Homo sapiens: one gene and its partners. The protein of the gene in region 1 interacts with the protein of each later gene in a pairwise test. Each region holds a gene or a part of one and is shown in the gene's direction. Other genes may lie near its edges. The genes, in order: NRM, SPAG4, PARP15, GORAB, GOLT1A, SLC39A2 and CPLX4.

Region 1 (4,003 bases):
TTTTTTTTTGAGATGGAGTCTTGCTCTGTCGCCCAGGCTGGAGTGCAGTGGCGCGATCTCGGCTCACTGCAAGCTCTGCCTCCCGGGTTCACGCCATTCTTCTGCCTCAGCCTCCTGAGCAGCTGTGACTACAAGCGCCCGCCACCGCGCCCGGCTAATTTTTTTTGTATTTTTAGTAGAGACGGGGTTTCACCGTGGTCTCGATCTCCTGACCTCGTGATCCACCCGCCTCGGCCTCCCAAACTGCTGGGATTACAGGCGTGAGCCACCGCGCCCGGCGAGAGGACTTTCTCAATAAAAACTGTGACTTTCATTGATACCGTCCATTTGGGACAACTTACTGAAGCAGAAAGCAGGGTGGAGACTGAATTCAAGGGAAAACATAAGATGTCTGGTACAGCATACAACAGCATTGATTCAGAGGAGGGTGGGAGTACTGAGCCCAGGAGACGGAGAAGGAATGTAAAGCCTGCGAGAGGCTGCTCAGCAATTATCTGGTCCCTTAGCCTACAGGATTAGCAGCTTCCTAACTCAGGCAATTATCTCTCTGGACCTGTTTCTTCTATCTATAAGTTGATGGAATTAGTCTAATGATATCTAAGGTCCCTACTATGTGTACGTCTACTGTGACAAGGTCCTTAGCTGCATGATCTTTAATTCTGACAAAGGTTACTATCACAAATATTTTAACATGTTTATTCTCGTGGTTACTAATCAACAATCTCTGGCACTATTACAACAAACCTTTCAGTATTTACAGAGAAGTTATTTGCCATTCTTAGCAACTGGCCAGTCAACAACTCAACTTTATAGTAAGTTACAGAATTTATTCTGTATATTGTATTCTGTACAATGTATTCCATACATTAATTTATTTTGTGGTAAAACAGTAACTTTTCATTTTAGATGGGAAAACTAGACGAGCTGAGATTCAACCCACGTGAGCGGCTGCAGAGCCGCTACCCTTAACAGCTCTCTCTCGGGATTCTAACATTCCCTTCTGTGACGGAGAGACAGCAGGCCGGGACACGCATCCCAGGACGGATCCACAGCTGGATGGGGAAGGCTGCGCCAGGCGGGCCGGAAGCCTGGCGGTGGCGTGCAGGAGCCCCGCCCTCCTGGGCTGGATTCAGCCGGGGGCGGGGCCGCGGGCGGGGCCTGTGGCAGCGGGAATCCCGACCCCGCCCCTTTCCCCACCCCTCCATTTCTCGCCATGGCCCCTGCACTGCTCCTGATCCCTGCTGCCCTCGCCTCTTTCATCCTGGCCTTTGGCACCGGAGTGGAGTTCGTGCGCTTTACCTCCCTTCGGCCACTTCTTGGAGGGATCCCGGAGTCTGGTGGTCCGGGTGAGCGGGAGGGATCGAGGATGAACTGGGAGGAGGAAGGTGGAGCCGTAGGAGAGGGATTGAGGGCGGGGCTTGGAAACAAATGACAGGGGAAGTCCAAGAGAGGGAACTCGAACCTTGAAAGCGGCCGAGAAGCTACAGGGGAGGGAGACCTGAGTTCTAAATTAGGAACTCAAGGATTAGAGTTTTGGAGAGGCGGGAGAGTGAGGACTGAGGGAGCCGAAAAGGGCGGTGACCGGAGTATTCTAAGTAAAGTGTTTTGTAGAGAGGACTGTTGAGAGGAGAGTGTTAAAAAGAAGGAGCATTTGGAGAACCGAAGTAAGAGGGGCAATCCAGCGTGGCCTCTCCAGCCATGCTTTTTGCAACTGCCTAACATGTGGTGTTCTATAAATCCTCTTCCCCAGGTTTGCAGGAGGCCTAGGGAAGAGGGCAGAAACTAGGGATGGAAAAGTGAGATGGGCACAGCCTAGAGAGGAAGCATTAAGGCTCTTGAAAGCAGTAAGGGACATGGCCTGGGGATCCAAGAGGAGATGAGGGTGGGGGAAACATTCTGCCACTGTTTCGATCTTTTGTCTCTTTTTCCCTCAACTTCCTGTAGATGCCCGCCAGGGATGGCTGGCTGCCCTGCAGGACCGCAGCATCCTTGCCCCCCTGGCATGGGATCTGGGGCTCCTGCTTCTATTTGTTGGGCAGCACAGCCTCATGGCAGCTGAAAGAGTGAAGGCATGGACATCCCGGTACTTTGGGGTCCTTCAGAGGTCACTGTATGTGGCCTGCACTGCCCTGGCCTTGCAGGTATGAGGCCCTGGCCTTGCAGGTATGAAATCCTGGCAGTTGAGTCCCCAAGGGAGACCAAGTGTGGGAGGGGTGCCGTGGATTGGAGGGGCAAAATATGGGTTCAGGAGGAGAATTGAGGAACTAATCTCAGCTTCCATTCCTCCACAGCACATATCCTACTTTTTATCAAGAAGGGTGTACTTGTCCTTCCCTAAGCACAAGATATGCTTCTCACCTCTGCAACTTTGTTTATGTCCTGCTTGAGATCCCTTCTCTTCAGTCCTACCCTTTCTTCAAAACCACTTCCCTAGGTCTGAAGAGAAGGCCTTGTCTGTCTTTTCACTGGGTGGTTGGCACAGGCTACTACTTTGCGTAGCTATCAGGTCACCCCATCTATTCTATAAGTTCTCAGGGTAGAGACAGGCCATCCTTACATCTTTGGGACCTCACCCAGCACGCACCCTCCACATGGTGAATATTTGGTGGTGATGCTTAGGAGAGAGGTGGGGGAGAGTTGCAGGCTAGCCTGTGGTGGGGGCAGATCTGGGTCTGGGTCTCCCAAGGTCGGGCAGACTAGGCCACTGGGATACCCAGCCCCTTATCCTTCCACAGCTGGTGATGCGGTACTGGGAGCCCATACCCAAAGGCCCTGTGTTGTGGGAGGCTCGGGCTGAGCCATGGGCCACCTGGGTGCCGCTCCTCTGCTTTGTGCTCCATGTCATCTCCTGGCTCCTCATCTTTAGCATCCTTCTCGTCTTTGACTATGCTGAGCTCATGGGCCTCAAACAGGTGAGGCTCCGAGATCCCTACCTATGACCTCTGACCCATTTTAGAACTCCTCGTTCCCTTTCAAGGGTTTCCCTCCTCCCATGCTCTTCTACTGTCTCCCTGCTTCTCCCTCGTGGCCCTTCCCTTTGACTTTCCCTCGTAAGGGCAGCAAGCATGGGCCTCCTGGGCCTGGGGAAGGTACATGGATCAGAAGTCAGGATCAGGGATCCAAGTCTCAGAAGGGGGGTTCCTGGGCCTGAGTTCTAGAAGGGTGGTGCCTGGAAGAGGAGGAAAGAAGTGCCCAAGATGAGAAAAGGGCTTGACTCCATTTCTAAGCTCTTCTCCCTCTCTTAGGTATACTACCATGTGCTGGGGCTGGGCGAGCCTCTGGCCCTGAAGTCTCCCCGGGCTCTCAGACTCTTCTCCCACCTGCGCCACCCAGTGTGTGTGGAGCTGCTGACAGTGCTGTGGGTGGTGCCTACCCTGGGCACGGACCGTCTCCTCCTTGCTTTCCTCCTTACCCTCTACCTGGGCCTGGCTCACGGGCTTGATCAGCAAGACCTCCGCTACCTCCGGGCCCAGCTACAAAGAAAACTCCACCTGCTCTCTCGGCCCCAGGATGGGGAGGCAGAGTGAGGAGCTCACTCTGGTTACAAGCCCTGTTCTTCCTCTCCCACTGAATTCTAAATCCTTAACATCCAGGCCCTGGCTGCTTCATGCCAGAGGCCCAAATCCATGGACTGAAGGAGATGCCCCTTCTACTACTTGAGACTTTATTCTCTGGGTCCAGCTCCATACCCTAAATTCTGAGTTTCAGCCACTGAACTCCAAGGTCCACTTCTCACCAGCAAGGAAGAGTGGGGTATGGAAGTCATCTGTCCCTTCACTGTTTAGAGCATGACACTCTCCCCCTCAACAGCCTCCTGAGAAGGAAAGGATCTGCCCTGACCACTCCCCTGGCACTGTTACTTGCCTCTGCGCCTCAGGGGTCCCCTTCTGCACCGCTGGCTTCCACTCCAAGAAGGTGGACCAGGGTCTGCAAGTTCAACGGTCATAGCTGTCCCTCCAGGCCCCAACCTTGCCTCACCACTCCCGGCCCTAGTCTCTGCACC
Region 2 (2,766 bases), on another chromosome or scaffold:
CCATCCCAAAGCAACCAGCTCCCAGAGGTCCCGTCCACCTGTAAAAGCAGCCCGCAAGCCTCGCCCCTCCAGGCCTCGCCCTCCCTCCTTGCAGAGAGTGGCCAAGCTCGTGTTCCAGAGGCTGAATGAGGATTTTGTGCGGAAGCCCGACTATGCTTTGAGCTCTGTGGGTAAGACCCGGAGACACTGGAAGACAGAGACGCAGACAGGAAAGAGGCCAAGACACTGACACAGACAGACCCATGCACCTGACCGGCCGAAGACAGAGCCTCGGACAGCCCCCACCCGCCCCCAGCCCCCGCGCCCCCGCGCCCCGACTCCCGGCAAGGCCTGGGAGCCTCTGAGGGTTACTTCTCACTGTTCCAGGAGCCTCCATCGACCTGCAGAAGACATCCCACGATTACGCAGACAGGAACACTGCCTACTTCTGGAATCGCTTCAGCTTCTGGAACTACGCACGGCCGCCCACGGTTATCCTGGAGGTGAGTCTGGAAACATCCCGGGATGGGACCCCGGGCGGGACGCTGGGAAAAGCACCAAAACCCCGCCCTACAGGCGGAGCTTGGCTGAGCCGAGGGCGTGGAGGATGGCGTTTAACTCAAGGAGAGACCTGGCATTGCTGGGGACTGGGGCGGGCTGGAGGTGGAGCTCTGGGCGGGTCGATGGATGGGGTCGAGCTGAGGCCCGGGCTGGGGAGCGGCAGCAGTCGCTCTGTCCGACGGTTCCGATGGTCCCTCCGCCCGCCTGCAGCCCCACGTGTTCCCTGGGAATTGCTGGGCTTTTGAAGGCGACCAAGGCCAGGTGGTGATCCAACTGCCGGGCCGAGTGCAGCTGAGCGACATCACTCTGCAGCATCCACCGCCCAGCGTGGAGCACACCGGAGGAGCCAACAGCGCCCCCCGCGATTTCGCGGTCTTTGTGAGTGCGGACGAGGTCAGGAGGTGGGGGATTTTGCCTAGAGAGCCCAAGCAGTCTTGAGAACTGGTGCCGTTATCTGAGTCTTCGCTTGCTCATCTATAAAATGAAGATACTACTATTTGCCTCTCAGAGCTGCTGTAGGTTATAGTCATAACCATATCCAGATATTAGTTATTGCTTGCAAAGCACTTACTCCGTGCCAAGCAGTTTACAGGCATTCTTATTTTGCTGTTGTTTTTGAGACAGTCTCGCTCTTGTCACCCAGGCTGCTGGAGTGCAGTGGTGCCATCTCAGCTCACCTGCAACCTCAGCCTCTAGGATTCAAGCGATTCTTGTGCCTCATCCTCCCGAGTAGCTGGAATTACAGGCGTGCGCCACCATGCTCGGCTAATTTTTGTATTTTTAGTAGAGATGGGGTTTCACCATGTTGGCCAGGATGGTCTCAAACTCCTGACCTCAAGTGATCCGCCTTCCTCGGCCTTCTGAAATGCTAGGATTACAGGCATGAGCCACCGTGCCTGCTTTGCACCCACATAACAACCTATGATGTACTGTTATCTCCCCCTTTAAAGATGAAGAAAGTAATGCTCAGAGAGGGGAAGTTATTTTTCCAAGGTAATACAACTAACAGTTGGCAGGATTAAATTTAAAACCTGGTTTCTTCCCGGGAGGTGGAGCTTGCAGTGAGCCAAGATCTCACCACTGCACTCCAGCCTGGGTGACAGAGCAACACTCCGTCTCAAAATAAATAAATAAATAAAACCTGGTTTCTTAGAGCCCACATTCTGAATTACAGTGTACGACCATCAAAAAATACATGAGAACATGCATATAGCTATTGAATACACAGAAGATCCTCAGCAAAGTTTTCTTCTCCCCGCCCCCCCCGCCCCACCTGTCCCCCTCATAGTTCCTCCTTTCATTCTTCACCCACCAGGGCCTCCAGGTTTATGATGAAACTGAAGTTTCCTTGGGGAAATTCACCTTCGATGTTGAGAAATCGGAGATTCAGACTTTCCACCTGCAGGTGTGTTTGTCTCTAGGGTGAAGGTGCCAAGGGAGTGGGGCAGTGAGGGATGAATGATCCAGGAGGAGGGCAGCCCTTGGCATGATCCATTTGTCTCCCCAGAATGACCCCCCAGCTGCCTTTCCCAAGGTGAAGATCCAGATTCTAAGCAACTGGGGCCACCCCCGTTTCACGTGCTTGTATCGAGTCCGTGCCCACGGTGTGCGAACCTCAGAGGGGGCAGAGGGCAGTGCACAGGGGCCCCATTAAACATGCTGATTTTTGGAGTAGAATTGAGTTCTGCTGAAGGATACTGGATCAGTGCTTTCGGGGGCTCTGTTGGGAGAGCTCTGGCTGCCGTTGCATCTAAGTATGGAGGGGCTGACTTCCCAATGCACCCTCTTTTCTTGGAGAAGTCTTGATCAAGATCGTAATAGCAGCTCCTGTTTATGGAGTGCCTACCACGTACAAGAAACAGTGCTGTGGACATTACACACATTACCTAACTTCATTCTCACAACCAGAAAGGGAAGCTGCTCAGGTCAGGAAACTTGTTCAATGTCACACAGCTAGTGAAAGGCAGTGACAGAGCAGTACCCAGGCCCACCTTCCTCCAGAGCCAGTCCTCTAACTGCAGAGCTGCAGGCAGCCTGAACCCACCTTTGTGCTCAATTCCCAGCCCCAGTGGGAAAGTCCCCAACTCCTGCTAGGTACCGGTGGAGGGGTAGCTACCCACCTTCTGCAGGCACACACTCAAAAGCTAAGGAGACTTGATAACCTCTAGGAAGCTTCTGAGTCACAGAGCTGATGCAGGCCTGGTAGCCCCTACATAGGTTGTCTTA
Region 3 (3,500 bases), on another chromosome or scaffold:
TCACTATTCCAATCTAAATGATTTCCTATCTTTTTTGAAATCTATACCAACTAATATTTGTATATTTAACAATGTCTTTTGATTATTTTGAATTGATTTAAACATTACAACAAGGTTACTTTTTTTTTTTTTTTTTGAGATAGCGTCTTGCCTTGTCACCTAGGCTGGAGTGCAGTGGCGCAGTCACGGTTCACTGCAGTCTCAACCTCCTAGGCTCAAGCAATCCTCCCACCTCAGCTTTCCAAGTAGCTGGGAATACAGGCCACTAGCTAATTTTTTTTTAATTGTAGAGACAAAGTCTCACTGTGTTGCTCAGGCTGGTCTTGAACTCCTGGGTTCAAGTGATCTTCCTGCCTCATCCTCCCAAAATGCTGGATTACAGGAGTAAACCACTACACCCAGCCTATTTTTTTACATGTTAATATATTGCTTCCCTAAACTGTGTAGGAATCAGTAAATGGAGAGTGAAACTGCAAGTGGGAGTGAGGAGAACATGGGCTAGATCTAATTTTGTTTTGTTTTGTTTTGTTTTGTTTCTTGGATGGCTTGCTCACTCTTGTCTCTGCAAGGGGCTTCTCAGATATTGAGATTAGTTTATGCTAACTTCATATAATACCTCATATGCTAACTAACATTATATAAGTGGATCCAAGAATGCCGATTATTAGGTTGAGAAATATAACCTATTATATGTCCCAGAGACATAGACATCTTTTAATTTACAATGAAGAAGAGTTCCCCAAAGAACCAGGACATTAAAAATCCACATGATCAGGCTGGGCTCATGCCAGTAATCCCAACACTTTGGGGGGCCAAGGTGGGCAGGTCACTTGAGATCAGGAGTTCAAGACCAGCCTGGCCAACATGGCAAAACCCCATCTCTACTAATAATACAAATATTAGCCAGGCATGGTGGCACATGCCTGTAATCCCCGCTACTCAGGAGGCTGAGGCATGAGAATTGCTTGAACCTGGGAGGCAGAGGGTGCAGTGAGCCGAGATCATGCCACTGCACTCCAGCCCTGGGAACAGATCGAAATCGTGTTTAAAAAAAAAAAAATTAAAAAAAAAAAAGGCCACACGATGAGAGTGTTTGTCTCCTCTTACTCCCAACTTACCAGGGAATCAGAAGGTTTCTGGTGAGCACAAAATCTGAGTAATAGGAGTTATGAGTTGAATATGTAACATCTCATGGCATTAGGCTATGACCCTCACTTCACCAAAGGAACAGCCTTAGCATTGACACTGGAGAACTCAACATCCCTGGACAGGCTAGAATGGATACTGCCTACCCTCACCTTAGTGACTTTCCTTTGCCAAGGCCTTCAGGGCCGACCATACCCTCCTTCACATTGACCTAGTCTTTCTTTTGGTATATTGTTAAATTCAAAACAAGTATTCTCAGTTCCTGCCAGGCTGAGAGCAATTCTTTCTCCCTTCCCCTGTCTCTCTGTCTCAATCTTTCTGTGTTTTTGTTTCTGTCTGTCTCTGTCTCTGTTTTTCACTTTCATTTTTCTTCTTTCTCCATTTCTCTCTCTCAGTCTTCGTCTCTGACTCTCTGCCTCTGGTCTCTGACTCATTTTCATAGCTCTACTCTGACTCATTACGTGTTGATTTCACAGCAGTGGTTAATATATTTCCTTAATGTCTAAGTTTTGGAAGTAACCTCATCATGGTGTTTCAGTGCTAACAATAGACTGTAAGCTCCTTGAGGGTGGGGCTGACATGTTAGTATGACAGGCAAAACATATCTGTACATTACCCCACAATACTTAGTAAATTTACAGTTGCTCCATCATTATGTATTATTGATTCAATCTCTAACTGTTGCTATTTTCGTTAAGGCCGATGTCATTGTCAACAGCGTTCCCATGAATCTTCAGCTTGGAGGAGGACCACTATCTCGGGCATTTTTGCAGAAAGCTGGTCCCATGCTCCAGAAAGAGTTAGATGACAGAAGGCGGGAAACAGAGGAAAAAGTAGGTAACATATTCATGACAAGCGGCTGCAATCTGGACTGCAAAGCTGTGCTCCATGCTGTGGCTCCATACTGGAATAATGGAGCAGAGACTTCTTGGCAGGTAGGGAACGCTCTTAGTTCTCCAACGTATTGGGTGGCTTTGGGAATCTCCTTCTGGTGTGGTATAGATCTGTGCTCAAGGGAAGCAATTTTGCCCCACAGAGGACAGTTGGGTTGTTACAACTGCTGCTGGTATCTAGTGGGTAGAAGCGAGGGATGCTGGTAAATATTCTATGATGCACACACCAGCCCCCACAACAAAGAAGTGTCTGCCCTAGGCTGTGAAACCCTCGTATTGATTGAACCCTGTCTATCTATTGAAATCTTTATTACATTCCATGGAGAATTCATCACAACTACCAGTTATTTCCAAGTAATTGACCCTTGGAGGTAGTAACATTCATTGGGATTCTACAGGAGTGGTGTCTAAGTTGTAATGTAATAATCTTTCAGTACAGCAAAGAGGTGCGCCCAGCACTGTGGTGAAGAAGAAAAAAGAGTCAGTGCCCTTCTTTCGATAACATCATTCCCACCTCCACTACCAGTTTAATTTCCCAACTTTTTTTCAGAATATAAAAAAGTAATACAAATACATTGTGGAAAATATAGAAAAGTACAAAAAGACAATAAAAATAATAATCCAACCACCAAGAGATAACTGTTTTCTTCTTCTTCTTTTTGAGACCGAGTTTCGCTCTGTTGCCCAGGCTGGAGTGCAGTGGGGCGCCATCTCAGCTCATTGCAACCTCCTCTCTGCCTCCCGGGTTCAAGTGATTCTCCTGCCTCAGCCTCCTGAATAGCTGGGATTACAGGTGCCCACCACGGGGCCTGGCTAATTTTTGTATTTTTAGTAGAGACGGGGTTTCACCATGTTAGCCAGGCTGGTCTCAAACTCCTGACCTCAAGTGATCCACCCGCCTCAGCCTCCCAAAGTGCTGGGATTACAGGCATGAGCTACTGTGCCTGGCCTTAAGAGGTAACTTTAGTTAACATTTTACTATATTTCCTTCAAGTCAACTTTATGACTTTATGCATATTTATTTATTTATTTATTTATTTTTTGAGATGGAGTTTTGCTCTTGTTGCCCAGGCTGGAGTGCAATGGCACAATCTTGGCTCACCGCAGCCTCCGCCTCCCGGGTTCAAGCAATTCTCCTGCCTCAGCCTCCCGAGTAGCTAGGATTATAGGCATGTGCCACTACACCTGGCTAATTTTGTATTTTTAGTAGAGATGGGATTTCTCCATGTTGGTCAGGCTGGTCTTGAACTCCCGACTTCAGGTGATCTGCCTGCTTCATCCTCCCAAAGTGCTGGGATTACAGGTGTGAGCCACCACAACTGGACAGCATATTTATGTCTTAGTTGAGATTCTCTTTCTCTCTCTTCTTTTTTTTTCTTTTAATTGAAACAGGGTCCCACTCTATTGCCCAGGCTGGAGTGCAGTGGCGCGATCTTACCTCACTGCAACCTCCACCTCCTG
Region 4 (4,276 bases), on another chromosome or scaffold:
AGCATCCCCAAATTTCAGAAACCACTTTAAGTTTTAAAAGCTCGGATTTACATGGGAAATTCCAAACATCCTTCACTTTTTATCACTTACTAAATCTGAAGTACTCATTTCAACTTTTCTTGACGTGTTTTATTTTGTACTTTACTCCTTTCTTTCATTTTGTTTAAAAATATCAACACACTAAAGCCAAAGTATTTTAAAATGTAAGCCAAGATGAGGTGTTTTGTTGTTCTTACTGCAAAAATAGTGAAAGAGAACCATGAAAAATAGTATAACTAGGTCTCTCTTGAATCATCCTTATCTATGTGTATTTTGACAACGCTTGCATCTTTTAATCTTTGCAACCATATTTCAAATGAGGAAATGGGATCTCAGGTTAGTGTTCAAGGCAGAACCCGAATTACGGTATTAGGATTCCAGGCAGGATCCTAAGAAATGCTTTCCCATCCCCCAGCACCGACGTTTTACAATGTCTTCTCTGAAAAACAGATTTAAAGGGGAGACTAAGAAATCCCGGCCGGGCGCAGTGGCTCACGCTTGTAATCCCAACACTTTGGAAGCCCGAGGCGGGCGGATACCCTAAGGTCAGGAGTTCGAGACCAGCCTGGCTAACATGGTGAAACCCCGTGTCTACTAAAAATACAGAAAATTAGCCGGGTGTGGTGGCCGGCGCCTGTAATCCCAGCTACTCGGGAGGCTGAGGCGGGAGAATCGCTTGAACCCGGGAGGCGGAGGTTGCAGTGAGCCGAGATCGTGCTATTGCACTCCAGCTTGTGCAACAAGAGCGAAACTATGTCTCAAAAAAAAAAAAAAAAAAAAGTAAGAAAAAAAGAAAAAGAAATCCCTTAAGAGGAAAGTTACATATTATAATTATTCACAAAGGAAACAACCCAAAGCAAAAGAAATCTGAGAGCCGCTCCGGCCTGCGAGAGACCTGGTTATGCCTGTTCCCTTTTCATCAATTATACCCCACCCCTTTTAAATGTTTCTTCATCATCAAAATCCTAAATCTGATCATTTCCTGAGTTAATCTGAAGGAGGCCTCCAGCGCTGTGCACACTCCCAGCAAAACACAAGGATTTTAGGGCACACTAAGAGCCACAGAGAGCACCGCTCCCGCCCCACAGGTACAGGACCCCAAAGGCACTTAGATCTCCCGTTTCCGCCACCGACTTGTTGCTCCTTCCCAAATACCTGTTTATCTCCACCCTTATCCCCATCGCCATTTCCCCCCTTAGCTCCTGAAGCGATTAACCAGCAACAGTGAGAAACAATGAGAGAGAGAGAGAGTAGAGGTAAGCCAGAGGAAACGAATGTCTGCGTGGCAAGGTTTCCTTAGGCAGTTTGTCAGGCACTGCTGAAGGCAGCCTGGAAGGAAGCCGGACCCTGAGGCCGGGGAGAGAGGGCCTTGTGTTTGGAGCCCGATGCACTGATTGGCCGCGGCCGGGGAAAAACCCGGATGAGCTGGGCAGCAGTGTTGGCAGTCGCGGCTGCGAGATTTGGGCACTTTTGGGGGTGCCGGTGGCCCGGGCCGATGGCGCAAGGTTGGGCAGGATTCTCTGAGGAGGAACTGAGGAGACTAAAGCAGACTAAAGGTTACAAGATGGGTTTACAGTGGTTTAATTCTTGGGTCTTAAGGGGAAGAGGCGGGGATGCAGCTTTGGCGGGGAAAGGGGGCGTGGAAGCGGCTACGTTTGTGTTAGCGGAAGGCGCTGTAAGTACGTGGACTGGATTAGGGGGTTTCAGAGGAGGACTTACTGGGAGTCACGACGGGAGGGGCAAGCCAGAGGACTGGGATCTTCTTTTAGAAAAAACGGTCCAGGAATCCACTGTAGGGATTTGACTCTTGTGAAAGGAATGGGACTTGGGAGAGGAAGTGAGCCTACAGCCGGGGTGTCTCCCTTAGGGAAGATTGCTGCAGGAATCAACGGTTGGAAGGTTAGGGTCAGGGTAAGGGAAGGAGGAGGGGCGCACACCGTATTAGAATTGTGATGAATTTATAGAAGCAGATGGTTGGAAAAAAGGAGCACAGGCGTCTGAATAAAGGCAAAAATTCGGTACTTTTCACAATTCATCTGGAGTGTTGCATTCACTTCTGGTTGCCAGATGATTTTTGCAGTACTTCCCAATTTTTGAGAATCAGCAAACCAAAAGGGTCTTTGAGAGGGTAGATGTGAAGACTTTATATGTTTATATACATACAGTCTTACTGACTTTGGAGTAAGCTAACCTTGTGCTTCTCTCTCTGGCTTTATAGAGTAATCATTGAATGGGCTTGTACAATTTTTTTGTTGTTGTGGAAGGAATTAAGTTTGCTGATTGTTGGTGGAAAACTTAGTAATATTAATTGCACTTTGCTTGTGGTTGAAATTTCGCAGTGATCTGTATGGTTATCGTGGTAGTACACACAATTTCTGTAAGAAGTGTACATCACTCTTGGTACCTTAATTCAAATACTTTATTTTGGTAGCAAATGAAGTAAACCTTTTGTTAGCGTTTGTGGGGAAATTGGATGTTGCTCTGGTAGCTTGTGCATTTTTAGCATAAATATGAGAATAATCTAGGGCAGACAAGTGGGAAAAGAAGTAAATTAGTAAGATAGGGCCAATGTAGATTATATCGACTGGGGACATTTTGACTGGTCCAGGGGACTTTAAAAACTCTATCATAAAGGTTAGGCTAAGCTATGTAGTTAACTGACTCTGTGTTGCTTGATATACTCAAATTCTTTTGCTTTGTGTTTTCAACATCCATTCACATACTTTGATATACAGGGTACAAGTGCCCTGGCCTCTGGTCTGACTCCAGTAGACTCATGAGGAGACAAACCACAAAGTTATGTGATAGTAGATATTGCAAGAACTTGCTTCAGAGACAAGAGGAACCTCACTCTGCCGGGGATTGGATGGAGCTTGGGAAGATTTCACAAAGTTTGTGTGTTAGCAGAGGCGCATTTTCCAGGGTAAAGATGACTTAATATAAAAATCTAAATTAAACAACATATTCATTATGTAGAAGTATATTTTGAAATATCTTTGCAACCGGGGGTAGATAGAGGATGGTGAGGACCTGAACTTCAAGGCCCACTGTAGTGTGGAAACCAAATCGCTAGTCCGTGACCACCTCGAGGACGGAAAATATCTTAACCTCCTTGTATACCCGTAGCTAAACACAGTGATTGGCATATAGAACTTCCAGCTCTTCCTCTAAATCTTTTCTCCTTGGATTCCTTATTTGTAAAATTAGAGGATTTGGCCCTTTAATTTTAAAGCCATTTCTAGCTGTTCTCTATCTTTAAAAATTTATTGAATAATTTAGGAAGATGGAGTTGGTTGCCAGGAAAAATAAGGACAGTAGTACTCTGGAGACCCCTGTATGGGCATTGAGGAACATAGTCAAGAAAGTTGTTAATAGTCTTGTTTATAATATTAAGAAGTTGGAAACAACCAAAGTGTCCATTAACAAGGGAATGGATAAATAAATTGTGGTATACTCATCTAGCGGGCTACTGTACAGCTGGTGGGAATATATTAGTATTAACTGTAGCCACATGCATTAAAATGTTTGTTAATACAGTATATGTAGTTACACTTGGCCCTTGAACAACACAAGTTTGAACTGTGATGGTTCACTTATACACAAATGTGCATTTAAAAAATACAGTATTTGGGGGATGCAAAACCTGAGTATATGGAGGGCCAACTTTTGGTGTATGTGGTCTTCACAGCGCCAACTGTGGGACTTGAGTATGCACAGATTTTGGTATACATGGGGATCCTGGAACCAATTATCCTCATATACCAAGGATCAGCTAGCTGTATATATAATATATACAGTCACGCACTCAATAACAGTATTTCAGTTAGCAGCGGACCACATATATGGTGATGGTCTGGTAATATTATAATACCCTGTTTTTACTATGCTTTTTCTATGTTTAGATACACAAATACCGTTGTTACAGTTGCCTACAGTCTTCAGTATAGTGACATACTGTACAGGTTTGGAGCTTAGGAGCAAAAGGCTGTACCATATAGCCTAAGTATATAGTAGGCTGTACCATCTAGGTTTGTGTAAATACACTCTCTGATGTTTGCGCAAGGACAAAATTGCCTTACAACACATTTCTTAGAATGTATCCCTTTGTTAAGTGACGTATGATTGTATATAGTGGGGAGGCGTGGGAATGTGATCAGGGAGAGGGAATTTCAGAGGTATTGGTATTTATGAAATCAGGTTAAGACAAGTTAAGCTAAAGTAACAAATAGCCCTAATA
Region 5 (3,500 bases), on another chromosome or scaffold:
CTCTTCTTGGCAGCAACTCGGGAGTTGCAGAGCAAGGAGCTAAACAAGGGCACCAGTGCAGCCATCAGTGTACCTTGCCAGGGAGATCTAAAGCTGGTCTCTGAGGTCTGGGGAGGTCTCCACTTCTAGGTGGCGCCTGGAGAGCCGGGCCTCCCTGAAGTTACCTTGGCCTCCCAGCTTTTTTCGGCTGGGTGTAGGCGTGACAGCCCTGGCCGCCTCCAGCAGAGGGCGCGCTGCCCAATCTGTCTGGATCACGGGGACCGTGCCGGGCAGGCACACCTGTCACTCCTGGGGGCATCTGTATGACATCCCCACCCCTCCACTCTTTCTGCCATGGTTGCTGCCTGAAAAGAACTTTAGGAGTAACCTCTGGCTGGATAACTTGACTAAAATAGCTAAGCTACTCCAGAAGCAAGAGGCAAAGGCGGGTCTGAAGCTTGTGTGTGAGAAACAGAGTTTCTGACCCTTTTCTGTGGGGTTTCGTGTCCCACTGAGCACTGAGAGCACTAAGTGTGGCCCATAAAGAAGGCTGCCCCCATCACAGGAGAGTCCTGGAATTGCATCTGCCCTTAAAGAAGAGTGTAGAACAGGTGGAGGAGGGATAACTATGGCAGCCAGCAAATCACTGCTGCAGAAGAAGAAGGAATAAACAGGAGAATGGACATCATGTGTGAATGTGAGAAACTTACGCTGTTTCCACAAAATGAGTATGAGGCTGTTCTTAAGTGTGTGCAGGATGAACATATAGAAAGTTCAACAAAACGAAATGAAAACCCCGTAAAATGTGCACATCGTGTTTCCACACAAATACACCTACTGAGGGGGAGGAAAGGGTGTATAGTCAGAGCTGAAATCAATGACAGATGTTTTTATGGCAGGCATAAGCCAACAACAGATATTTTATAACAAGCATAAAAACCTAAAACACTTTTATCATTTGGGTTAAAGAAAGATGACTGTGGTCTTCCTCCACAATATTCTGACCTACACGAAATTATCTTGGTAATTCAGGTAGATGTAACTCTAGATTCTCAATGTGTTGTCTCTGAGGATGGAAATGTTGACAAAACACAACCTTCATCATGACCCATGGGGGTGATATTCTGCTGAGCTGTCCCAGCTTCTAAGAGATTTAATTCAGGCCAGCAGGAGGAGGTAGAAGTAGGAAACAAGCCCAAATAGATCACGAGGCTTGTCAGGAACACAAGGAATCAGCTTTTAGTAGAAAATGGATTCTGGGCAGCTGGGTGATATGTTGAGAGAAATTATGTTACACTGGGTCCCAACAAAATCCAGCTTCTGCCAAAAGTGAGATCCAGTAAGACTGGCATGATACCAGACTATGAGTTGAGCAAGGTTTCAGTCTATAATTTGAATGCTAGATCTTATCACTGTATTTTTCTGTTTTCTTTTTTTTTGAGATGGAGTTTTGCTCTTGTTACCCAGGCTGGAGTGCAGTGGCATAATCTCGGCTCACTGCAACCTCCACCTCCCGGGTTCAAGCAATTCTCCTGCCTCAGCCTCCCACGTAGCTGGGACTAGAGACGCATGCCACCATGTCCAGCTAATTTTTGTATTTTTAGTAGAGACGGGGTTTCACCATGTTGGCCAGGCTGGCCTTGAACTCCTGACTTCAAGTGATCCACCCACATCAGCCTCCCAAAGTGCTGGGATTACAGGTGTGAGCCATTGAGCACCTGGCTTCATTGCTGTATTTTTGATGATTCTTTTAAAGAAGCTCTTTGACCTTTTTTCTGTATTGGAATTGATCCTAATCCTCTTAAAATCTGCATAGCAACAGATGATGGATTAACTACCCAGAAGATGATTATGTTGTTTCATTTTCTTTCAGTTGTAAATAAAACTCAGCCAGTAAATCTAGTCTTGATAATTTTGTTTTTGTTTTTACAATTCTGCCTCTAAACACCAGAATAATTTTTCCCCTCACTTTTAACAACTATCTGCAAAAGCATAATAATAATACCAATTTCATAGAGGTTATGAGAACTGATTCTAACAAGTCCAGTAAAATTTTTGACGAGGGCATCAAGACCATGAAATGGGGAAAGAACAGTCTTTCCAACAGATAGTGCTGGGAAAACTGGATATCCACATGCAAAAGATGCAGGTGGATCCTTACCTTATACTATCTGCAAAAAGTAACTCAAAGCAGATCAAAGCCCTAAAAATAAGAGCTAAAACTATAAAACTCTTAGAATAAAAAATAGGGGAAAGCATTACAGCACTGGATTTGATAATGATTTCTAGGTTATGACATGAAAAGCACAGACAACAAAAGAAAAAAAAGACATCAATCAGACTACATCAAAATTTAAAACTTCACCGCATCAAAGGACACAGTCAACAGACTGAAAGGTAACCTACAGAGTGGGAGGAAATATTTGCAAATCATACGCTACATAGTTAATATCCAAAATATATAAAGAACTCCTACAACTCAACAACAAAAAGAACAACCTGTTTAAAAAATAGGCAAAGGACTTAACTAGACAATTCTCCAAAGAAGATATACACATAGCTAACAAGCACATGAAAAGATCATTAATCATTAATCATTAGGGAAATGTAAGTCAAAACCACAATGTATACTACCTTATACCCATTAGCATGGCTGCTATCAAAACAAAACAAAACAGATAAAGTATTGGCAAGATGTGGAGAAATTAGAACTCTTGTGTACTGTTGCTGGGAATGTTAAATGGTGCAGTCACAATGGAAAACAAAATGGCAATTCCTCAAAGAATTAAAAATAGAATTACCATGTGATCCAGTATAATTCCGTTAATTCCACTTTGTGGGGTATATACCTGAAAGGATCGGAAGCAGTGTCTTGAAGAGATATTTTCTTATGCTCATATTTATGGTAACACTATTTACAATAGGTAAGAGATGGATGGAAGCCACCCAGATGTCCATCAACAGATGAATGGATCAACAAAATGCAGGGTACAGATAGCAATGGACTATTATTCTGTTTTAAAAAGGAAGAAAATTCAGACACATGCTACAACATGAAGGAACCTTGAGAACGTTATGATAAGTGAAATAAGACAGTCACAAAAAGACAAATATTGTATGATTCCACTTATAGGAGGTTCCCAGAGTAGTCAAAAATTCATAGAGAAAGTAAAATGGTGGTTGTTGGAGGCTGGTGGGAGGGGAATGGGGAGCTACTGTTTAATGGGTGTAGAGTTTCAGCTTTGCAAGACGAAGAATTCAGGAGATGCGCTTAATACCACTGAACTGTACATTTTTAAATGGTTAGATGGTAAGTCTCATTTTATGTGCACGTTGCCACAATTTAAAACTTAAAAAGGTAACAATTTAAAAACAAAGCAACAGAATGAATTTTTATTTATTGACTATCATAGTGGCAAAGATAAGTAAAATGAACAATTCTGAGTGCTGGAGAGGGTTAAGGAAAAAAGGAACTATATATCCGGTTATTGTACAAATCGTCTTGAGGGGAGCGATCTGAA
Region 6 (4,280 bases), on another chromosome or scaffold:
TGCTAAGAAAATAGAAGAACAGGAAGAAAAGTTGCCAGGTTCAGACATCCCAGGGAAAAAGAAGCGTAAACAGCATTAGCAATCAGTGACTGATGATAATGCTGCAATAATGGGAATGGTTTTATTTCTAAATCAAATCGTTTATTGCTTTGTTTCTAAAAAACAAAAAAAAAACTTCTACCTGCAGACCCCTAGTTTAGATTAATTAGGAAACATTCCCGCAGGTAGTCATAGAGCTTGAATTGTATATAAAAGCTAAAGAAAAGCTTGTAACTTTGAGTTGGTCTGGTGTGCTACTCCGACCTCCCTGTAATCAGTTGCAGAAATAAACTCCCGTCTTTCCCAGTCTGTCTGTCTGCATCTCATTACCGGACCACAAGAACAAGCAGCAGGACCAGTAACACTGTAAGAATCATCCAGTAACACTGTAAGAATACTGCTTCTACCAGAGGCCAGGACTTCCCTAGGAAAATAATCTGGAGTAGCAAGGAAAGCTGCCTCCAGAGCTCTGAGAACTGGCTCAACAGGTCTCAGGGTTGTTATGTGGGCCACCTGAATAGGGGAATCAGCAGCTGCCTGGCCTCTTGTACTAACGCCTTCCCTTCTGTCTTTCCCAGGGTCCCTCAGCTACCCTAGAGTATGTATGGGAAATGCCCCAGACATTTCCATCAAGAGTGATTCCCATCAGAACTGAATCTTCTACCCCCACCTCTCTATATCCAGGTAGAATCCTCCCATTCACTCAGTTCATTTCTGTTTTCCCCTAAGCCTTGCTGTTTCAGGGCTAGAGCAGCTTCCTTTGTCTTAAACCTTAAATGTCTTTTTTTCCACAGTTCTTACCAGGAAACAGGCACAGTTAGAAGTTGTAACAGTATAAATGTTGTAATACCAGACATCTCAACTCATTCCTCTCAAAACTGATCCCAATCAAAAGAGAAAGAAAAAAAACAAATCAACTTACCACTAGACATTTCCATGCCTGGAGCTATTTTTCTGGGGTTACAGGAAAGGGTAGTTCCCTCATGTGGGTACTAGTTCCCACAGAGTAGCACCAGCACCACCTCTCAGCCCCACCTCTTTACCTCCAGGTGGCCCCAAATCTCTGAAAGCGGGTGGTTCAAGTATCAGCATTGCAACCTATAAGACTTGGGATGAGGTGGAGAGGGTATGGAAGGCTTAGATCAAACGTCCTGAGTGAGACAGGACCAGATTGTCCCCAGTACAAAATAGCTGGGAAGCAGCTACCATAGACTTTCCTATTTTGGATTAGACCAACCCCAAGCACATGAACTAAGACTATCCGTAGCTCTTGGATTAGTCATGCCATTGAAGAGGAGGAGAAGACGCCACTGGGCTGTGCCTGGCAGGGAGTCTGGAGTTTCTGGTTTCCAAGCTCAGGAAGGCGTGAACCAGGGGAGGGGCCTCCATGCAGGGGGAGGGCTAGAAGCTGGGGCAGGATCTGTCAGCTCTGCAATGCTGCAGAAGCAGAAGCAACACAGAAAGAAGATACCAACAGCCTCCTGAAACTCACGAGAGTGGACACTCCAGTGTTGACCACCTAAGATACCACTCCTGCTCCAAAGATTACAGCTCCCTTGTCATTCTGACTCCTGGGCTTACCCTACACCCCAGAGATGGAGCAACTACTAGGAATAAAACTTGGCTGCCTGTTTGCCCTGTTGGCTCTCACTCTGGGCTGTGGCCTTACTCCCATCTGCTTCAAATGGTTCCAGATTGATGCAGCCAGAGGTATAGCCCTACCCCATCTTTGTTCCATAGCCTGAGTCTCACCTCAACCCTGTCCTGATACCTTGCTCTGATTCTCTCACCATCCCCAACCTTGGGATATTGAGTGCTGCCTGCTGCTCTTTACTCACCTTTGTCTGTCTCCTCAGTGTCAAGTGGGTTGTAACTTCTGCTTTTTATTAGGTCATCACCGGCTAGTCCTCAGACTCCTGGGCTGTATTTCTGCTGGTGTTTTCCTGGGAGCAGGGTTCATGCATATGACTGCTGAAGCCCTGGAGGAAATTGAATCACAGATTCAGAAGTTCATGGTGCAGGTGAGAGCAGAGATTTCAAGCCGCAGGTCTATGAGGCCAAAATGATAAACAGGACAAAGGGAAGAGAGCGGGAAAGTGATGGAGCCAAGGACATGGGTGGAACGACAAGGAAAATGACAGCTCTTGTGTGGGATGGTGAAAGCAAGTCAGATTAGGCTTTAAGGAAAACAGAATTGCTGAAGGGACAGCACAGGAAGCTGTGCTGCTCCATCCCACATCTAATTTCTGCTGCTTTCTTCTTAGAACAGATCAGCAAGTGAGAGAAATTCTTCTGGTGATGCTGATTCAGCTCATGTAAGTACCTCCCACCATCCCCTATCTGGAGAGTGAGGAGAACCAGAGAGGCCTTTCATATCCAGACCCTTTTGAGAGGAATACATGAGGAGTACCAAGAATCCCTTCTGCTCCCTAGCTCAGACATCGTAGAGGAAAAGAGGAGCAAATCCAATCCTTTTGAGTTTATAGAATGCCAGGGAAAGCCCTTGTTTTACTCTTTCATTCTTTCCCTGGATCCTCTGATATACCTCACATCATTTGCCCATGTTTTTAACTCTATTGAGATTCTGTCCCTTAGCCCCTCTGGCAGTCTTTTGTTGTTGTTGTTTTTCGTTTGTTTGTTGAGATGAAATCTCTCTGTCGCCCAGACTGGAGTACAGTGGCACAATCTCGGCTCACTGCAACCTCTGCCTTCCGAGTTCTAGTGATTTTCCTGCCTCAGCCTCCTGAGTAGCTGGGATTACAGGCACGTGCCACCACACCTGGCTAGTTTTTGTATTTTTAGTAGAGACGGGGTTTCATCATGTTGGCCAGGCTGGTCTCAATCTCCTGACCTCAAGTGATCTGCCCACTTCAGTCTCCCAAAGTGCTAGGATTACAGGCATGAGCCACTGTGTCCGGCCCACTCTGGCATTCTTGTTGTTGCATGGCCATGTCTACTCTTGGCTTCATTTCCCCTACCCTTTTTTGTGTTCTGTTACCACATTTTCTCATTCTCTTCAATCTCCCAATTCCATGTCCATCCAATGTATTGCCTACCCTTCCTTTCCATCTCACAGCCCTTCTTTTTGTTTCTAGATGGAGTATCCCTATGGAGAGCTCATCATCTCCCTGGGCTTCTTTTTTGTCTTCTTTTTGGAGTCGCTGGCATTGCAGTGCTGTCCTGGGGCTGCTGGAGGATCGACAGTGCAGGACGAAGAATGGGGTGGGGCTCATATCTTCGAACTCCACAGCCATGGACATTTACCCTCACCCTCAAAGGGTCCCCTCCGAGCCCTTGTCCTCTTGCTGTCACTCTCCTTTCACTCAGTGTTTGAAGGGCTAGCTGTGGGGCTGCAGCCGACAGTAGCAGCTACCGTGCAGCTCTGCCTTGCTGTCCTGGCTCATAAGGGGCTTGTGGTGTTTGGTGTAGGAATGCGGCTAGTGCATTTAGGTACCAGCTCACGATGGGCAGTGTTCTCCATACTATTATTAGCTCTCATGTCCCCCCTGGGCCTAGCCGTAGGGCTGGCTGTGACTGGAGGGGACTCTGAAGGAGGGCGGGGCTTAGCCCAGGCTGTGTTAGAGGGTGTGGCAGCTGGTACCTTCCTGTATGTCACCTTCCTAGAAATTCTTCCACGGGAGCTAGCTAGTCCTGAGGCCCCTCTAGCTAAGTGGAGCTGTGTAGCCGCTGGTTTTGCCTTCATGGCCTTTATTGCCTTGTGGGCCTGAGAGATTCCTGGCTTTTCTGATGGACCTATTTAGGACAACCTCTCTATCCCCAGGGAGACCTCCCAAATGGCTTTGACCCTCAGACATTTCTTTACTCAGACTAAATAGCATTCAGTAGGACTGGACTGGACCCCAGGTTTCCTTTACATGAGATCCCATTTCTCACCCTGGACTAAGACAAAGATATTTAGGTTGAGCAGCTATTAATTGGAGAATTGGTACAGAGACGCTCCAGATTTTATTCTTATCCCATTTATGCTACTGTGTGTAATAAAATGCCCATTTTACCCTCCTTCAGCCATTCTGGATTTCATTTCTCCTGGTTGCCTAGATGCTACCTGGCACAGGAAGTGGTGGAATGGGGAATGGGAAGGATGAGTGTTGAATGCAGTATTTTATTCTGGAATTAGGGCTCCTAGCCATCCTGTCAGTTGCAGCCACACCCCTAGACATGGCACCTTGCTAAAATTCCCCTCCCACCTTACCCACTGTAGTTGAGAAAATGAGCCAGTT
Region 7 (3,374 bases), on another chromosome or scaffold:
CCTAAGTGGTAAAAGAATCTCAGCTGAGTATGGGGGTGCATACCTGTAGTCCCAGCTACTTGGAAGGCTGAGGTGGAAGGATTGCTTGAGCCCAGGAGGCCAAGGCTGCAATGAGCCCAGATTGCACCACTGCACTCCAGCCTCGGTGAAAGAGAGAGACCCTGTCTAAAAAAAAAAAAAAATAAAGGAATCTCAAAGACCAGGCAGCATGCATTAAGAAATTCTAGAACAGACACTCCTAAAATCACAAAATGAAATGTGCAAGGCGCTTGTGACAGCGTCAGCAACACCGAAGGCTAGACTGCCAGTATGCTGAGTGGCGGCCATGCCCTTGATGGTTCACTTAATACATGTGTACTGTGTGCTAGACTCCAGTCCAGGTGCTAACGGTGGAAAGTTGAATCTGACAAGAGCCCATGACGGGCTCCCTGTCTAGTGGAAGGGAGGAAAAGAGCCATGATTAAGAAAAAGTTGCCACTAAGGTGTGATGAGTGAATTAATGCATACTGTCTAGTTACTATAAACTGAGACCTCATCCTCTACAGTGGGGTCAACCAGGTGAGTGGGTCTTGGCATGGGGCTGATAGAATCTGCAAGACTTGCAAAGCTGCCCTTAGGCAGAGTTGGGGTGTGATGCCCCAGCTTTTGTGTGTATCAGCATCACAGAGAGAAAGACATTCTTAAAAATCCAGATGGGGTTGGGAGTGGTGGCTCACACCTGTAATTTCAGCACTTTGGGAGGCCGGGGTGGTTGGATCGCCTGAGGTCAGGAGTTCGAGACCAGCCTGGCCAACATGGTGAAACCCCGTCTCTACTAAAAATACAAAAAAATCAGCTGAGTGTGGTGGTGCACACCTGTAATCCCAGCTACTGAGATTTACTGAGGCAGGAGAATTGCTTGAACCAAGGAGGCAGAGGTTGCAGTGAGCTGAGATCGAGATACTGCACTTCAGCCTGGGCAACAGAGCAAGACTCCCTCTCAAAAAAAAAAAAAAAATTCCAGATGGCTGGGCTCCATCTCCAGAGTTCCTGATTCAGTGGGTCTGGGATGGGGCCCAAGAATTTGTAGTTCCAGCAGGCTCTAGATGATGCTAATGCTGCTTGTCCAGAGACCACACTTGGAGAACCACCATGCTGGAAGGTTCTGATCGACGCAAGGTGCCATGAAGAAAGGACCCCCCTACAGAAGCCCCCACAACTGCCATCAGGACCAGGCTCTGCTGCAAGGCCAAGAGTGCCACTCACTTCCTGTATTCTCTAAAGACCTTTTCCTGCTGCTTTTAAAATTTATTTAGTTAGTGAGTTAGTAGTTTAGAGTTATTTATCTATCTCTATTTATTTTTCACATAGAGTGAAATGGATGAGAATCAAATCCAGATGGCTGGAGATGATGTGGATTTACCTGAAGATCTCCGGAAAATGGTAGATGAAGATCAAGAAGAGGAAGAAGATAAAGATTCTATTCTTGGGCAGATACAGAATCTCCAGAACATGGACTTGGATACCATAAAAGAAAAAGCCCAGGCCACCTTCACTGAAATCAAGCAGACAGCGGAGCAGAAGTGTTCCGTGATGTGAGGGGTGGGAGGGGTGGAGGGAGGGAACCAGCCATCCTTGGAAAAGACCACTCTCTTGTGGGACGTTTCAAGCAGTACATGTTTTAATGTAGTGAACACAGTTAGGAAAACCACGATGATCCATTGACAGACAATAATTTGGTTGTTCTAAATATTCCTGGCAGAGCATTTAGCTAACACCTTGCAGCGGGAACCTTACTTTCCTTTTAGTTATAAATGAGATAAACTGGAAAATTTCAGTTGTAAATGATGATGCAGAACACATATCTGCTTAAAGACCTTGAGATGAGCCAGGAAGAAACAAAAGCAAGGGGCATTTCCTCTCCAACTTTCTTCCTTGGAGGCCAAGTTCTCACCCTGTCCAACTATTCGCAGGACACCAGGTCCCTTCAGAGAGAAATGTGGAGAGTCAAGGTGTCTACTGGGAGCCGGGTTTCCCACAGGGAGCTGAGTCTACAGACTCCAGGGCAATCAAAGGTCACCACCCCCACCCCTCACCTCTAGGATCCTTGAATTTGTCAATGATACTCATCAAGTATGCTTGGATCCTTTGGTCCTTGGATGCTTCTCAGCCAAGTGGCGGTAGCACAGATGTGGTGAACAATGACGAATTGAGGCAGGGAATAGACCTCACTAGCCCTTTGCAATGGAGATCATCGTTCTAGTGGCCATGTGAAGAATGGAACCAAGGGAGGCACAATTAGAGGCAGAGGGAAACCAGGCAGACGGCTGCTCTTTTTGAGTTGAGCTTAACTCTCCTTGTCTGAACTTGGTGATAGCAATGGGAACAAAGTGGGTAGACTAACAGAGAGCATTAAGAAGTTAAATCAATCTCTCTCTGTCTCCTCCCAACCTCTCTCTCTCTTTCATCCCCTTCTCTCCCTATCTCTCTTTTTTTTTTCTTCTCCTGTCCCTTCCCATCCCACCCCTTTAGACTACCTTCCAGTAAATCACACTGTCATTTGGTGCCACAAGCTTTCAGGGTAGACACTGATTTTTCCCCCCTAATATCTGCTCTCTTTCAAAAGGAATAATTCAAAAGACTTAGGACAATTACCACTGAAACACTTCGAGCTATTTAGCTAAAGCCCACCAAACCAAAACAAAATACTGATTTTTTTTTTTTTTTTTGGTGACTCTGTTCATACAGTGAATAAAGATCTATCAAAGGAAAAGGAAACTGAGACCGAAAACTTAGGGTCTAAGTTGTTCTAAACCCAGGGTTCTCAAATGTGTTGTACAAAAAGTTTCATGTAATAAAATTAAGCAAATAAAACAAATGAATAGAGGTCCAAAACCTATGGTCCTTGGCAAAGTTTAATCTGTCTTGGAAATTCCTGGGAGAACATTGGTGCAATGATTGAGGCTGATTAGCCTTCTAGTCCACAAACCCAGATGCCATGGGCACATTTTAAAACTGTGCTTGTCTTTTATCAGAAATGGCATGTGAGTTGTGATTTGTTTTATAGCAGAAACTTTAAAAAACTCACTTTTTTAAAAACTACAATATAATAGATAACATTTATTTTCAGTTTAATGCCTGACTCTGCCCTGTAGTTGGTGAGGTGGGTAGTATGGATGGGTGAGAGGTGCTGTATGTGGCCTGATATCTGTACACTTTGTATGACATAAAATACTACAGCTGCCAAATTGTTCCACACTCTAGCCTCAGGATGACAAAGAAGATGTGCTTTCTTGTAAAAGATGCAGCCAGTTCTGCTAAGGAAATCACTAAATTGGCACTTCCTCTTGACTGCCAACATTACTCCAATGCAATTTGGTCGTTGTCTCAATGAA

Evidence for each region.
Region 2: the proteins of NRM (region 1) and SPAG4 interact in binary tests that used the Homo sapiens proteins (3 or more experiments, as listed by UniProt).
Region 3: the proteins of NRM (region 1) and PARP15 interact in binary tests that used the Homo sapiens proteins (3 or more experiments, as listed by UniProt).
Region 4: the proteins of NRM (region 1) and GORAB interact in binary tests that used the Homo sapiens proteins (3 or more experiments, as listed by UniProt).
Region 5: the proteins of NRM (region 1) and GOLT1A interact in binary tests that used the Homo sapiens proteins (3 or more experiments, as listed by UniProt).
Region 6: the proteins of NRM (region 1) and SLC39A2 interact in binary tests that used the Homo sapiens proteins (3 or more experiments, as listed by UniProt).
Region 7: the proteins of NRM (region 1) and CPLX4 interact in binary tests that used the Homo sapiens proteins (3 or more experiments, as listed by UniProt).

Annotation. Positions count from the first base shown.
Region 1 is NC_000006.12:30,688,185-30,692,187, reverse strand, and holds the start of NRM (nurim), read left to right. Parts: upstream 1-1,203; 5' UTR 1,204-1,213; coding exon 1,214-1,346; intron 1,347-1,357; exon of another isoform or gene 1,358-1,844; intron 1,845-1,944; coding exon 1,945-2,141; coding exon of another isoform or gene 2,142-2,163; intron 2,164-2,717; coding exon of another isoform or gene 2,718-2,735; coding exon 2,736-2,912; intron 2,913-3,245; coding exon 3,246-3,527; 3' UTR 3,528-4,003.
Region 2 is NC_000020.11:35,618,829-35,621,594, forward strand, and holds the end of SPAG4 (sperm-associated antigen 4 protein), read left to right. Parts: intron 1-94; coding exon 95-170; intron 171-366; coding exon 367-482; intron 483-750; coding exon 751-918; intron 919-1,855; coding exon 1,856-1,945; intron 1,946-2,047; coding exon 2,048-2,194; 3' UTR 2,195-2,266; downstream 2,267-2,766. UniProt on the Homo sapiens protein: Involved in spermatogenesis. Required for sperm head formation but not required to establish and maintain general polarity of the sperm head. Required for anchoring and organization of the manchette.
Region 3 is NC_000003.12:122,608,650-122,612,149, forward strand, and holds part of PARP15 (protein mono-ADP-ribosyltransferase PARP15), read left to right. Parts: intron 1-1,844; coding exon 1,845-2,081; intron 2,082-3,500. UniProt on the Homo sapiens protein: Mono-ADP-ribosyltransferase that mediates mono-ADP-ribosylation of target proteins. Acts as a negative regulator of transcription.
Region 4 is NC_000001.11:170,530,690-170,534,965, forward strand, and holds the start of GORAB (RAB6-interacting golgin), read left to right. Parts: upstream 1-1,476; 5' UTR 1,477-1,534; coding exon 1,535-1,595; intron 1,596-1,758; exon of another isoform or gene 1,759-1,920; intron 1,921-2,774; exon of another isoform or gene 2,775-2,962; intron 2,963-4,276.
Region 5 is NC_000001.11:204,203,989-204,207,488, reverse strand, and holds part of GOLT1A (vesicle transport protein GOT1A), read left to right. Parts: intron 1-3,500. UniProt on the Homo sapiens protein: May be involved in fusion of ER-derived transport vesicles with the Golgi complex.
Region 6 is NC_000014.9:20,997,813-21,002,092, forward strand, and holds SLC39A2 (zinc transporter ZIP2), read left to right. Parts: upstream 1-1,480; 5' UTR 1,481-1,634; coding exon 1,635-1,749; intron 1,750-1,929; coding exon 1,930-2,060; intron 2,061-2,303; coding exon 2,304-2,354; intron 2,355-3,134; coding exon 3,135-3,767; 3' UTR 3,768-4,059; downstream 4,060-4,280. UniProt on the Homo sapiens protein: Transporter for the divalent cation Zn(2+). Mediates the influx of Zn(2+) into cells from extracellular space. The Zn(2+) uniporter activity is independent of H(+)-driving force, but is modulated by extracellular pH and membrane potential.
Region 7 is NC_000018.10:59,294,902-59,298,275, reverse strand, and holds the end of CPLX4 (complexin-4), read left to right. Parts: intron 1-1,350; coding exon 1,351-1,578; 3' UTR 1,579-2,874; downstream 2,875-3,374.